Homo sapiens: one gene and its partner. The protein of the gene in region 1 interacts with the protein of each later gene in a biochemical or structural test. Each region holds a gene or a part of one and is shown in the gene's direction. Other genes may lie near its edges.

The links.
Region 2: the proteins of COPRS (region 1) and PRMT5 form a complex in vitro, tested with the Homo sapiens proteins (3 studies listed by BioGRID, with this or other methods).

Annotation. Positions count from the first base shown.
Region 1 is NC_000017.11:31,856,230-31,863,137, reverse strand, and holds the start of COPRS (coordinator of PRMT5 and differentiation stimulator), read left to right. Parts: upstream 1-3,893; 5' UTR 3,894-3,938; coding exon 3,939-4,037; intron 4,038-4,175; exon of another isoform or gene 4,176-4,317; coding exon of another isoform or gene 4,318-4,380; intron 4,381-6,272; coding exon 6,273-6,339; intron 6,340-6,908. UniProt on the Homo sapiens protein: Histone-binding protein required for histone H4 methyltransferase activity of PRMT5.
Region 2 is NC_000014.9:22,920,000-22,926,381, reverse strand, and holds the end of PRMT5 (protein arginine N-methyltransferase 5), read left to right. Parts: intron 1-85; coding exon 86-249; intron 250-1,341; coding exon 1,342-1,503; intron 1,504-1,672; coding exon 1,673-1,750; intron 1,751-1,844; coding exon 1,845-1,903; intron 1,904-1,940; exon of another isoform or gene 1,941-1,989; coding exon 1,990-2,112; intron 2,113-2,198; coding exon 2,199-2,374; intron 2,375-2,974; exon of another isoform or gene 2,975-3,221; coding exon 3,222-3,331; exon of another isoform or gene 3,332-3,413; intron 3,414-3,546; coding exon 3,547-3,640; intron 3,641-3,822; coding exon 3,823-3,939; intron 3,940-4,141; coding exon 4,142-4,206; intron 4,207-5,261; exon of another isoform or gene 5,262-5,325; coding exon 5,326-5,478; 3' UTR 5,479-5,853; downstream 5,854-6,382. UniProt on the Homo sapiens protein: Arginine methyltransferase that can both catalyze the formation of omega-N monomethylarginine (MMA) and symmetrical dimethylarginine (sDMA), with a preference for the formation of MMA.

The DNA of each region.
Region 1 (6,908 bases):
AACTCCTGGACTCAAGTGACCTTCTCACCTCAGACTCCTGAGTAGCTGGGATTATAGGTGCATGACACTGCTCAGTTTGATGTGCTAATCTGATTCCAGTAAAGAGAATTGCTGATTTAATGTTGAGGCCCGATCTTCCACAGGTCCTAAATGTTTCCCAAAATACATGGATAGCATACGACTGGGTTTTTTTAAAATTATCCCAGGTCAAGCATGAGTATCTCTAATCTCGACCTAAGAGCCAGTTAAAATGAAGGAGAAAGTGGCCAGGCATGGTGACTCAACGCCTGTAATCCCAGCACTTTGGGAAGGCTGAGGCAGGCGGATCACCTGAGGTCAGGAGTTTGAGACTAGCCTGGCCAACATGGTGAAACCCCGTCTCTACTAAAAATACAAAAATTAGCCAGGTGTGGTGGTGGGTGCCTGTAATCCCAGCTGCTTGGGAGGCTGAGGCAGGAGAATTGCTTGAACCTGGGAGACGGAGGTTGCAGTGAGCCGAGATCATGCCATTGCTACTCCATCCTGGGTAAGAAGAGCGAAACTCCTTCTCAAGGAAAAAAAAAAAGGAGAAAGTACAGTTTTGTTGGTTTATTCTCATTATAAAAGATACGTGGTATGCATTTGTTCTGGAAAATATGGAGGAAATAGAATAGTGTGGTAAAAAAAAGCATCCTGTCACTGGGAGAAGCTTTCAGTGTAGCTTATTGTTACGTTTCACTTAGTATTGTTTTTCTGTGTCATTAAATAGCCTTAAAAACATTTAATGAATTCGTAACATTACATTGTAAAAATGAGCCATAATATATTTTACTAATCCTCTGGTTAGACTGTCTTTTTTTTTTTGAGATGGAGCCTTGCTCTGTCATCCAGGCTGGAGTGCAGTGGCTCCATCTCGGCTCACTGCAACCTCCACCTCCCGGGTTCAAGTGGTTCTGGCTCAGCCTCCCGAGCAGCTGGGTGGGATTACAGGCACCCGCCACCGCGCCCAGCCAATTTTTGTATTTTTAGTAGTGCGGGGGTTTCATCATATTGGCCAGGCTGGTTGCGAACTCCTGACCTCATGATCCACCCGCCTTGGCCTCCCAAAGTGTTGGGATTACAGGCGTGAACCACTAAGCCTGGCCTGGACTGTCATTTCTAATTTTTTTAAAAATTAGATAAATGCTGTTGATGAAGATTCTTGTCAATCTTTGTTCACATCCCTGGCCATTTCCTTAGGAGATTGACATCCGACAGTGGAATTACTGGATCAAAGGATACTGCTTTTAGAGAATACTGATATGTATTGCTGGTTTGCTCCTTCTTTCAAGCAATACATGAAAGTGTCAGTACCCTTACCTGTACTGGTGTAATTATATCTTTTATTTTTACCATTTTATAGGTGAAATGTGATATGTCATTGTTTTACCATACTTTGATATTAGTGAAGTTAGTGTATTTTATGTTTCTCATCTTTTTACATCCTTAGACTATTTAAAAATTTTTTTTCTTACTAATTTATGAGTTAATTTTTTTTTTTAAATTGGACAAGTTCTTGCTTTGTCACCTAGGCTAGAGTGCAGTGGTGTGATCATGGCTCACTACAGCCTTAACTTCTGGGCTCAAGAGATCCTCCCACCTCAGCCTCTTGAGTAGCTGGGACTGCAGGTGCACACCACCATGCCTGGTTAATTTAAATTTTTTTTTGTAGAGACTGGTCTTGCTATGTTGCCAGGGCTGGTCTCTTAAACAGTTGGGCTCAAACAATCCTCCTACCTCAACCTCCCAAAGTGCTGGTATTATAGGCATGAGCCATTGTGCCTGGCCAGAGTTTTTAAAAACATATTCAGAATATTAATATCTTGTTTCTCATTTGTTGCAAATAATTTTACCCCCAGCCTTGTTTGTGGTGATTTTTTTTTTTTGAGACAGAGTCTTGCTCTGTGGTCCAGGCTGGAGTGCAGTGGTGTGGTCTTACTGCAACCTCTGCCTCCTAGGTTCAAACAGTTCTCCCTGCCAAAGCCTCCCAAGTAGCTGGGATTATAGGCACCTTTTGTGGCGATTTTTGATGCCCAGAGGTATTTTGTGTGTGTATGTGTGATGTCTGTTTTTAAAATGCTTTGGAAGCTCTTCCTGGTGCTGAGAACAACTCTTTTTCCCCAAGCAGTTAATTTTGCCAACACTATTTGGGCAGTTATGTTTCTCTCTGCTGATTTGTGATGTTACCTTTATTATATATTAAATTTCTATGAGTATTAGAGTCTACTTTAGAACATTTTTATTTTAAGCTTTTGTACTGTTTTCTTTTTCTTTCTGGTTTTTTTTTTTTTTAGACCAAGTCTCACTCTGTCGCCCAGGCTGGAGTGCTGTGGGGCAATCTCTGCTCACTGCACCCTCCACCTCCCGGGCTCAAGTGATTCTCCTGCCTCAGCCTCCCGAGTAGCTGGGATTATGGGTGTGTGCCACCACGCCTGGCTAATTTTTGTATTTTTAGTAGAGATGGGGTTTCACCATGTTGGCCAGGATAGCCTTGAACTGACCTCAAGTGATCTGCCTGCCTCGGCCTCCCAAAGTGCTGGAATTACAGGAGTGAGCCACCGCGGCCAGCCCCTGTTTTCTTGTCATTTGTTTTAAAATAAGAAAAAAATTCCTCTTTTTCCTGTCCCTTAAGTCCTGGGATGTTTAACATTCTTAATCTTATTTGGCACTTTAATTTTACGAAAGAGATATGTAGATTAGGGAGCAAAGAGGATAGTGGTAGTCTCCTTAACACAAGGCTATAAGGGTGGTCACCTGGGGTCATCACATCCCTGTATCTGATTCTCAATATTGCAGGTTATGAAAACACATCTAGCTAGTACACCTAGAGTTGCACTGTTAGAAACAGTAGCTCCAAGGCACATGTAGCAATTTAAATTTATTAGAATTATTCAATTTATTCACATTGGCCACATTTCAAGTGCTCAGTAGGTATATGGTTACTATATTGGACAGTACAGATAGTAGAACTTTCATTTCCACTTCCACCATTAAAGAACGTTCTATTGGACATTGCTGACCTAGAGGCAGTTAGCCTTGGGGATACTGACTCCTGTGTAGGAACATCTACATATAGAACAAAAATAATATCGAATATTGTGTGTCAGTTTTATGCTAAATTTTTTCAAATGCCTTTTGTGTTGTACAAACAACACAGTCTTTGAGGGGGATGAAGGAAGAGGGTCTCATGTCCTGATGTTGACGTGATTAGCACACCTTGAGCTGGTTTGTTATTAGAGGTTAGGCACTGTGGGGAAGGCAGGGAAGGCTGTCTTTCCAGTTGGGCTGTTCCCAGCTCAGGCCCTGCCTATCCCCAGAAGCCACCTTTCGAGGCAAAATGGGAAATAATTAGGTTGTCGGTATCAGGCGTTGAGCATGGAAATACAGGAATCCCGAATGTTCAGGATTATTATGAGTAAGCGTCGTGGCCTGTATTCTGTGTCCACTGCATATTGCAGTTTGTGTCTTAATCATCTATCTTGGTTTCTAATGGATTAACTTCAAAGACGATCATTAGCTCAAGGTGGAGGTCACTGGGTTGCTCATGTGTCTTACCCACGCGGGGTTTTGAAGCTGGAGCACACCCCGAGTGGCCGAGTAGGGTACGCTTGGCGTTTCACACGCAGCTAGTCGTGCAGCCTTAGGATATGCACCGAGAGGAGTTTCCAAAATCCGTCTCCGAGATTGTTTCAGATTTCGCGCTGGGAGGGAGGGGCGGGCTCCGCGAGGCCGCGCGCCCCGCCCCCTGCGCCGCCCCGCCCCCGCTTGCTCGTGACACCCCCGCGCCCCGCCCTCTTGGCCGGTACCCACCCCCTCCCCAGGCTGATTGGCGCTTCTGCGGCGGATCCTCGGGCGGGCAGCCGGGCCGGCGCGTCACGTGGCCCACGGCGTCCAGGGCGACCAGCCGCGGGCCGCAGGGCATGGACCTTCAGGCCGCCGGGGCCCAGGCGCAGGGGGCCGCGGAGCCGTCTCGGGGCCCGCCGCTGCCTAGCGCGCGGGGGGCGCCCCCCAGCCCGGAGGTGAGCGCCGCGTGGGGGCCAGGAGCAACAGCCAGCCGCAGCCTGGGGCGGGAAGTCGCGGGGCCGGGCTGGGCGGGGGCCGCGGGGCCGGGGAAGCGCCTCTGGCCGGCCTCGGGCCGCCCCGCGACACGGAGCGCTGTTTGGGCTCGCGCTCGAGCTGAAAACGGCCAGGCCGCGGGGCCGCGGGGCTGCGGGGCGGGGAAAGCCGAGGGCGTGGGTGGGCGCTCTGGGTCAGCAGAGACGGCTGTCCGCCCGCTGGGCGCCGCTGCGGATTTGGTAAATGGGAGGTGACGCTGGTGACCGAGAGCCGGGGCCCGCTGCCAGGAGCCTGGGCGAGGGCCAGGTGAGGGCGGCGAGGAGAGGGACTTGACTTTACAGACCTGTGGACCTCTGTCCGTTGGTGGGGATGCCAGCTAACCCTGAGCCCCAGATGTCACATGCGCGCTCCCCCTTCTCCTTACTGAAACCAGAAAGGCCCTGTTTGACGCAGGGTTTCCAGAAACTTGTTTTCATGTAAGCTAGACAGCTCCTGGTTTTCCCGAGAACGTTACAGACCGTTATTACAGTTCTTACCTGTCCTTGTTTACAGTCTGTACCGGCTAGGTGCTGAGCGGCTTGAAGGTAGGAACCCTCTGTTAGGGCTGTTTGCACAGCCTAGCATAGTGCCTGGCACAGGAGATAGACATACCGACTGGATGAATGATGCCTCAAAGATGGTACTTAGCCAAAGTAAGATATGAAAAATGCAGCGACACTTACAAAGAAAATTACTTTGGAGTGCAGAATAGAATGGGACTAATTTTGTCAGGGCATAGCAGGAAAGGATCAAGGTGAGAGGCTGGTGGTGTCTGCAGAGGCGTGGAGATGAGAAAGTGCAGGGCACATGGCCTGGAGTTGGGTCTCAGAGCATGCAGAGAACTATGCTCAACAGGTTGATGGGAGTGGGAGAAGAGGGGACGTGCGAATGCCATGGCTAATTTTGTGCTCTCTCAGTGGAGGGCTGTTGAAGGTTTTGAGCAGAGTAGTGATTAATTCTGTAAGGCTGGGCCAGATGGCTGGATGGGAAGGTGGTTAGGAGGCCGTGGCAGTGGTTTAGGTGAGAGGTCTGACTTCTCCTTGGGCGGCAGTGACCAGAGGTTGTCACTAACTACAGGGAGTGGAACTGAATTATTAAACCCAGACATGACTAGATAATGAATGCTGATTGGAGCAGGTGCCGAGTACAGTTTAGATGTAGCAGAAAAGATGAATTTAAATTCAAGAAATGTTACATTCTTGCCACATGCCAGGTGTTTTCATAAATGGTGTCTAATCATAAGTCCCCTGCAGGGTCAGAACAGTCACCCCTAATTTCTGGAGAAGAAAACTCAGGCACAGTAATTGAAGTGATGTGTTCAAGGTCACACTCTGAATGGATGGCAGAGCTGGGATCAAAATCAGGTCTTTTATGCAGGCAGGGAACATTTCGTGATTCATTAGAAAGAGGTCTTGGAGGTCATAGGGTTTCAGGAACTTCTGAGTGATGGGAGCAGAGAAGCATTTGGTTGGCTGTGCGGGAAGATTTTCAGTTAGATTAGAAATACTGCCTTCAGTGCTCAGCATTGCAGAGGAATTATAAAGCTTCCCCCACCTCAGTGTGTTGGTGAGGAAACAGAGAATTTGATAGAGTTGTTTACTAGCTATAAAGTTGTTAAGTAACTGAAAAGGTAAAACGTGTACCTGGGGGTGGCAACCGCAGGGAACAGCTACCAACCTATGGCTGAAGGAACAAAGAGATGAAGTTGATTAAAATTTAAAAGCTTAGGGAAAAGGCTCTGCAGAGCTGAAATTCCAACCTTTAAGGAGAAGGCACTGCCCCAGCTGATGGTAGGGGGTCTCTGAGCTTGGAGGAGAGTCCTGAGACCCAGACCTCTAAAGAGAAGGTGCAGTGATAAGACTGGCTCTGCAAGAGTTCGCAGAACTGTATACTGGATTCTGTGGCCACTATAGGAAGGCATTCCTGCTGCCACGGTGAAGTGTCATGAGGTGATGCCTACATGAATAGGAAGGAACAAGGCCCATCTCCCTCCAGCCTTGCTCAGTTTAACAGGGCAAAGTAGAAATGTGGGTGGCAGAGTCCCAGCCCTGCATCACCAAGGGGAGTATGGAAGAGTGGGTGGGGTTGAGATGCAATAGCTGAATACTGGGCATACCCCAGATACCCAAGTCCTTGGTAATCATTTCTTCTTCCTGCAGGCTGGCTTTGCTACAGCTGACCACTCCAGTCAGGAGAGAGAGACTGAGAAGGCTATGGATCGACTAGGCAAGTAGATGGCAGAGACGGAAGTTGGGGAGACCAAGGATGTGAGGAGAGGAATAGTCCCTCTGTCTCATTTACCTTCTCTTTTAGCCAGTCCTCTCTGCTGCTTAGTGGCCTTCTCTGCCCAGTTGAACAGTAACCTCCTTTGGAAGCCTTGCTTGGAGCTTCCTTAAGGGAAGTCCTGAACTTTTCTTATGTTCAAATCCATCCTTCTACCGAGAGAAACAGCTTGAAACGGTGAAAATAGTACAGCAGTCTCACCTTATTCCTAGGGGATACATTCTAAGACCCCCCCGCCCCAATGGATGCCTGAAACTGCTTTTTTTTCCTCCTATATATACTATTTCTGATATGGTTTAACTTATAAATTATGCATATGTGATTAATAACAATAGTAATATAGAACAATTATGCCAGTATACTGAAAGTTACGTGAATGTGTTCTCTCTCAAAATATCTTTTTTTTTTGAAACGGAGTCTCGCTGTGTCACCAGGCTGGAGTACAGTGGCACGATGTCAGCTCACCGCAACCTCCGCTTCCCAGGTTAAAGCAATTCTCCTGCCTCAGCCTC
Region 2 (6,382 bases), on another chromosome or scaffold:
AAGAAGTAAACAGATTTTGCGCAAAGGAGCAAGGAAGGGTTTCTTGCCTGGCAGTGGTTGACAGTTTTTCTTTTGCCTCATGTAGCTCTTGAAATTGGGGCTGACCTCCCATCTAATCATGTCATTGATCGCTGGCTTGGGGAGCCCATCAAAGCAGCCATTCTCCCCACTAGCATTTTCCTGACCAATAAGAAGGGATTTCCTGTTCTTTCTAAGATGCACCAGAGGCTCATCTTCCGGCTCCTCAAGGTGAGTGGTAGGAGGGTTCTAAAGGTAGTCCAGCTATACATCTTGCCTTATTTACCTGTGTATGATCGTTTTTTCCTGTGAGGCTGACTCTTTTTCTTTGGTTTCTGGGGAGCAATTTCAGTGAAGTTGGGAATCTTGAGAACAAAAAGGTAAATGCCAGTAGTAGCCCTAGAAACCTTTCAAAACAAACCAAACCTCATGAGAACTTTGCAGAAGGTTTCATTTAGGAAGTTACAGCAAGGATCCATGAGGCTGTTTGGGTGTTGATACTTTCATGGCATAAGAGGGCTTTTTCTTTTTTCTTTTTTTTTTTGAGACAGGGTCTCACTCTGTTACCCAGACTGGAGTGCAGCCATACCATCTCAGCTCACCAGAACCTCTGCCTCCCAGGCTTAAGCGATTCTTCTGCTTTAGCCTCCTGAGTAGCTGGGATTATAGGAATGCACCACTACTGCCCGGCTAATTTTTGTATTTTCAGTAGAGACAGGTTTTATCATGTTGGCCAGGCTGGTCTTGAACGCCTGACCTCAAATGATCCACCCGCCTCGGCCTTCCAAAGTATTGGGATTACAGGCGTGGGCCACCACGCCCGGCCAAGGGGGCTTTTTATAAGTTTACTGAAGCCTCATGCTGCCTTTGTTGGTATTGGGACAGACGCTAGAGAACTGTTGGTCTGGGCCAGGTGCAGTGGCTCGCGCCTGTAATCCCAGGACTTTGGGAGGCTGAGGCGGATGGATCATCTGAGGTCAGGAGTTTGAGACCAGCCTGTCCAACATGGTGAAACCCCGTCTCTACTAAAAATACAAAAATTAGCCAAGCATGGTGGCACGCACCTGTAGTCCCAGCTACTTGGGAGGCTGAGGCAGGAGAATTGCTTGAACCTGGGAGGTGGAGGTTGCAAGTGAGCCAAGATCACGCCATTGCACTCCAGCCTGGGCAATAGAGCGAGACTCCATCTTTTTTTTTAAAAAAAAAAAAAAAGAGAACTGTTGATCTGGGCCTTATTTTACACTAGGGCTCTTTGGCCATATACCATAATATTCCAGAATCTTGGTTTGAGGGCTGTGTCTGATGGTCTGACTTTTCTCACAGTTGGAGGTGCAGTTCATCATCACAGGCACCAACCACCACTCAGAGAAGGAGTTCTGCTCCTACCTCCAATACCTGGAATACTTAAGCCAGAACCGTCCTCCACCTAATGCCTATGAACTCTTTGCCAAGGGCTATGAAGACTATCTGCAGTCCCCGCTTCAGGTGGGTCTGGAGTGCACTTAGAGGAGGAAGGTGGGATGGAAAATGTTTCTTGAGAATATATGCCTCCAAATCTTACTAAAACTCAGAAAGCAGTGGAAAGTTTTTGATATTTTAGTGCATTGTCCTTTGCCAGAAACTGGCTAACTTTGTCCTTTTCCTCATTCATCAGCCACTGATGGACAATCTGGAATCTCAGACATATGAAGTGTTTGAAAAGGACCCCATCAAATACTCTCAGTACCAGCAGGTACTGTGTGGTGCCCAGGGTGAGGAAAGCACAGGGCCAGCATGACCTGGGGAGGATGGGATTACAACCATGGGATATTCTCTCCTCCCTCCAGGCCATCTATAAATGTCTGCTAGACCGAGTACCAGAAGAGGAGAAGGATACCAATGTCCAGTGAGTGCTTTCCCCTCAATCTCAGGGACTTGCATACCTATATCTGTATATGCCAAGTCTGCTTGACTCTTCCCTTTCTTTCTTAGGGTACTGATGGTGCTGGGAGCAGGACGGGGACCCCTGGTGAACGCTTCCCTGCGGGCAGCCAAGCAGGCCGACCGGCGGATAAAGCTGTATGCTGTGGAGAAAAACCCAAATGCCGTGGTGACGTGAGTAGCAACCTGCTTGCTGGGAAGTTAGTCCTCATTGCCAAATTTCCTTAACATCTCTCCTTACCTTATTGTCTCTGTTTCAGGCTAGAGAACTGGCAGTTTGAAGAATGGGGAAGCCAAGTGACCGTAGTCTCATCAGACATGAGGGAATGGGTGGCTCCAGAGAAAGCAGACATCATTGTCAGTGAGCTTCTGGGCTCATTTGCTGACAATGAATTGTCGCCTGAGTGCCTGGATGGAGCCCAGCACTTCCTAAAAGGTGCCCCCAGGTTGGGGTGTAGGTGGAGGGTGATGATGGGTGAGACAGCAACCTGGGAGGAGGGTACAGGGTTTAGGGGAAAGTGGGTTGGACCTGGGTCACATCATATGAGTTTGAGAGCCACTGCTTCACTGCCTCTGTGCCCCTAGCAAATGAAGTCATCTCTCCAAACCTTAGTGTTCATATTTGTAAAATGAAGGGAGTGGGCTGGGCGCGGTGGCTCATGCCTGTAATTGCAGCACTTTGGGAGGCCAAGGCGGGAGGTCAGGAGTTTGAGACCAGCCTGGGCAACATGGCGAAACCCCATCACTACTAAAAATACAAAAATTAGCCAGGCGTGGCGGTGCACGCCTGTAATCCCAGCTACTCGGGAGGCTGAGGCGCGAGAATCACTTGAACCTGGGAGGAGAAGGTTGCAGTGAGCTGAGATTGTGCCACTGCACTCCAGCCTGGGCAACAGAGCGAGACTCCATCTCAAATAAATAAATAAATAAATAAATAAATAAATAAATATGACATATGTACCCTGAGCTTAGCTTTCATCAGGAACTTTTGTGGGACTTTGTGACCCCACAAAAGTTAAGAACCACCAGATTAGACTATCTTGGGTTCTTTCAGTTTTAATCTGTGTGACTCTGTAAATTAACCTAGTAGTGGAATCCTCCATGACAGTAGTTGGAAGCAGGCTGGCTTAGTAATGTGACAACATGCATTTGTCTCTTTCTTCCATGCCCATGCCAACGTTGGTTGGTTTTGACATGGGAGGTTTGATCCTTCTGATCCTTCAGTTAGTACAGACATACCATTTCCCTCCCTCTGGAACTAATTTGACTCTCCTGCTGTGCAGATGATGGTGTGAGCATCCCCGGGGAGTACACTTCCTTTCTGGCTCCCATCTCTTCCTCCAAGCTGTACAATGAGGTCCGAGCCTGTAGGGAGAAGGACCGTGACCCTGAGGTAAAGAACCACTCTCTCTGGAAAGAAGTGGTACTCTTTAGTCCTCTTCTTTTTCTGTATTTGCATCAGCTATTTTCTTCTGCTGGGGATGAAGAGGTGAAGGAGAAGTTAGGGATTGGGGAAGCACTAAAGTAAAACTTTTTTTAATCCTTGGGGAAGTAGTTCTCTCTTGTGTGTCTTCCCCAACACTCTCTCTCTCTTTCTGTCTCTGACAGGCCCAGTTTGAGATGCCTTATGTGGTACGGCTGCACAACTTCCACCAGCTCTCTGCACCCCAGCCCTGTTTCACCTTCAGCCATCCCAACAGAGGTAGGTTCTTTTATGGCTGTCCTCTGACTAGAGGGGTACGGGCTTCTTCCTTCCTCCTGCTTTCTTCCCTTACTGTCCCTAGTCTGCCTTATCTACTCTTCCTTTCCTGGGTCTTGCTCATGCTTTATCAAGTTGTCTAGAGCTTCTGGCCCCTTGTCACCCACATAATTATTTCCTGACAGATCCTATGATTGACAACAACCGCTATTGCACCTTGGAATTTCCTGTGGAGGTGAACACAGTACTACATGGCTTTGCCGGCTACTTTGAGACTGTGCTTTATCAGGACATCACTCTGAGTGAGTGTCTATGGCAGTAGATGGCAGAGTATGAGGGTGTGCTTCCTGGGCAGCTTATATGTACATGTGTCATTTAGATTTATGGGGGGCCCAGTGCTCAATGAATGGAGATCTTTGTGTGATTAGAGAAGAGACCCTCTTCAGCATAGGCAAAAGTCACAGCCATGGAGACCTCTGTTTTTTCATTATTTTGTCCACACAGGTATCCGTCCAGAGACTCACTCTCCTGGGATGTTCTCATGGTTTCCCATCCTCTTCCCTATTAAGGTAGGAACTGCTTTTAAGACTCTCTAGTTAAGCAGTAACCTTTGCCTTTGGTGTTGTGCTTCTTTCCTTCTCCCAGGAAGATAGTTGACTATGACTCATGTTCTCCTGATTTCATATGCTCTTGGATCCCAGTGGTAGGTGTTGGGAGTATTTGGAGTGGCCTTCTGCCTGGCTTTCCCGCATCTACTCTGGCTACTCTTCTGTCTGTTCTCTACTTTGAGCAAGAGTCATCTTTTAAAAACTCAAATTTGATCTTATCTCTCTTGCTGTCTTTTTTTTTTTTTTTTTTTTAAAGAGACGGAGTCTCACTCTGTCGCCCAGGCTGGAGTGCAGTGGCACAATTTCGGCTCACTGCAAGCTCCGCCTCCCGGGTTCATGCCATTCTCCTGCCTCAGCCTCCCTGAGGCTGAGATTACAGGTGCCAGCCACCACACCCGGCTAATTCTTGTATTTTTAGTAGAGACGGGGTTTTACCGTGTTAGCCAGGATGGTCTCGATCTCCTGACCTCATGATCCGCCCACCTCAGCCTCCCAAAGTGCTGGGATTACAGGCGTGAGCCACCGCGCCTGGCCTGATCTTATCTCTCTTTTTTGCTTAAAACTCTTCAATGCCTTCCCATTGTCTTTAGGATAAAAGTCAAAATCTGGGACATTGCTTGTAAGACTTGATGTGATCGAGTGTTTGCTTGCCTTTGCAGCTACTGTCCCCTTGCTTACACTGCTTCAGCCTTATGGACCTTCTTTTTGTTCTAATTGTCTATCTTCTTTCCTACCTCAGGCTTTCATGCCTTTCTCTTGCCTGTAGAGTTCTTTGCTTGTCTCTTCACACAGTTAACCTATCTTCTAGGTCTTCTTTAAACATTTTTATTGTGAGATAAACTTTCTCTGATCTCCTAGACTAGGTTAGTGTTCCCTTTCATAGGTGTTTTTCTGACTCTGTACATGTTCACAGCTCTCACCACACCTTTGATTATTTGTGTTCTGATAGGCTTCAAATAACTTTCATGAGGGTTGGGACAGTCTTGTCATGTTTATCATTTTATCTCCACACCTACCTTAATACATTGCCATGTATAATTCATAGCTTCACCCTGAACCTTCCTGTCTTTCTTCTTACAGCAGCCCATAACGGTACGTGAAGGCCAAACCATCTGTGTGCGTTTCTGGCGATGCAGCAATTCCAAGAAGGTGTGGTATGAGTGGGCTGTGACAGCACCAGTCTGTTCTGCTATTCATAACCCCACAGGCCGCTCATATACCATTGGCCTCTAGCCCTGCGTGCCAAGTGTCCAGAGCCTTGGAAGCAGCTTCAGGTTCTGCTCCTGTAGTACAGAAGGTGCAGTACATCTATGGGCTGTGATTCCCCTTGCCCATCAGAGAGGAGCATTTCAATCTGCTTTCCTGCCTTACATCAAGGTGGGCAAGGGATTATAATTAATTGCAGGGCTCAAGCCACCAATCTATGAAGACCTCAGGCCAGGGGGTGAGGAATTAGTGCTGGATTTGAAGCTACGCACTCAGCCTCAAGAACTCCCTGGAATATCCCTGAGAACATGGGGTTTGAACGGATTTTCAGCCTTTTTCTGTTCTTGTTTTGATGGTTTTGTGTAAGAGGAAATACAAATAAAGTTATAGCCCTTTACTGCACGACCATGCTGCCCCCTGCCACTATTTTCCCACACCTCACTTAGACCCAGGCATGTTCAGATCTGTCCTCTTAGCCTATCCAAGACCCAAAGGGGCCTAGTTGTATTCCCTACTTAGGAAGCTGAGCAATGACTATTGTAGTCCTGGATATAGGCCTTTCTGACCAGCTACAGTGAGCTCTTGTCCATTAGAACCTACAGTTAGGCTTTTCTCTGGGGAGGAGGCATAGAGTTTGCCACCTTGGAAAAAGATGGAATAGTGAGTGAAGCCAGTTTCTCTTCTGTATTCTTGAGCTACTGCACGGGCAACTGGTTACCTCTCCTTTGTTACCTCTTGGGAAGACTGGAATCCATCCAGGAATCTCCAGCAAGAAGCTACCTGTTTTTTTTGAATAAAACCACAGGGTTACAGTTTGAAGTCCTAAGAGATCATCTAGTCCAATTTTCCATTTTACAGAGGGGGAGTTTGAAATGGGTACAATGATGTGATATTAGTATCCAAGTCAGAATTGGAAGTCAGGTCCTCCGAC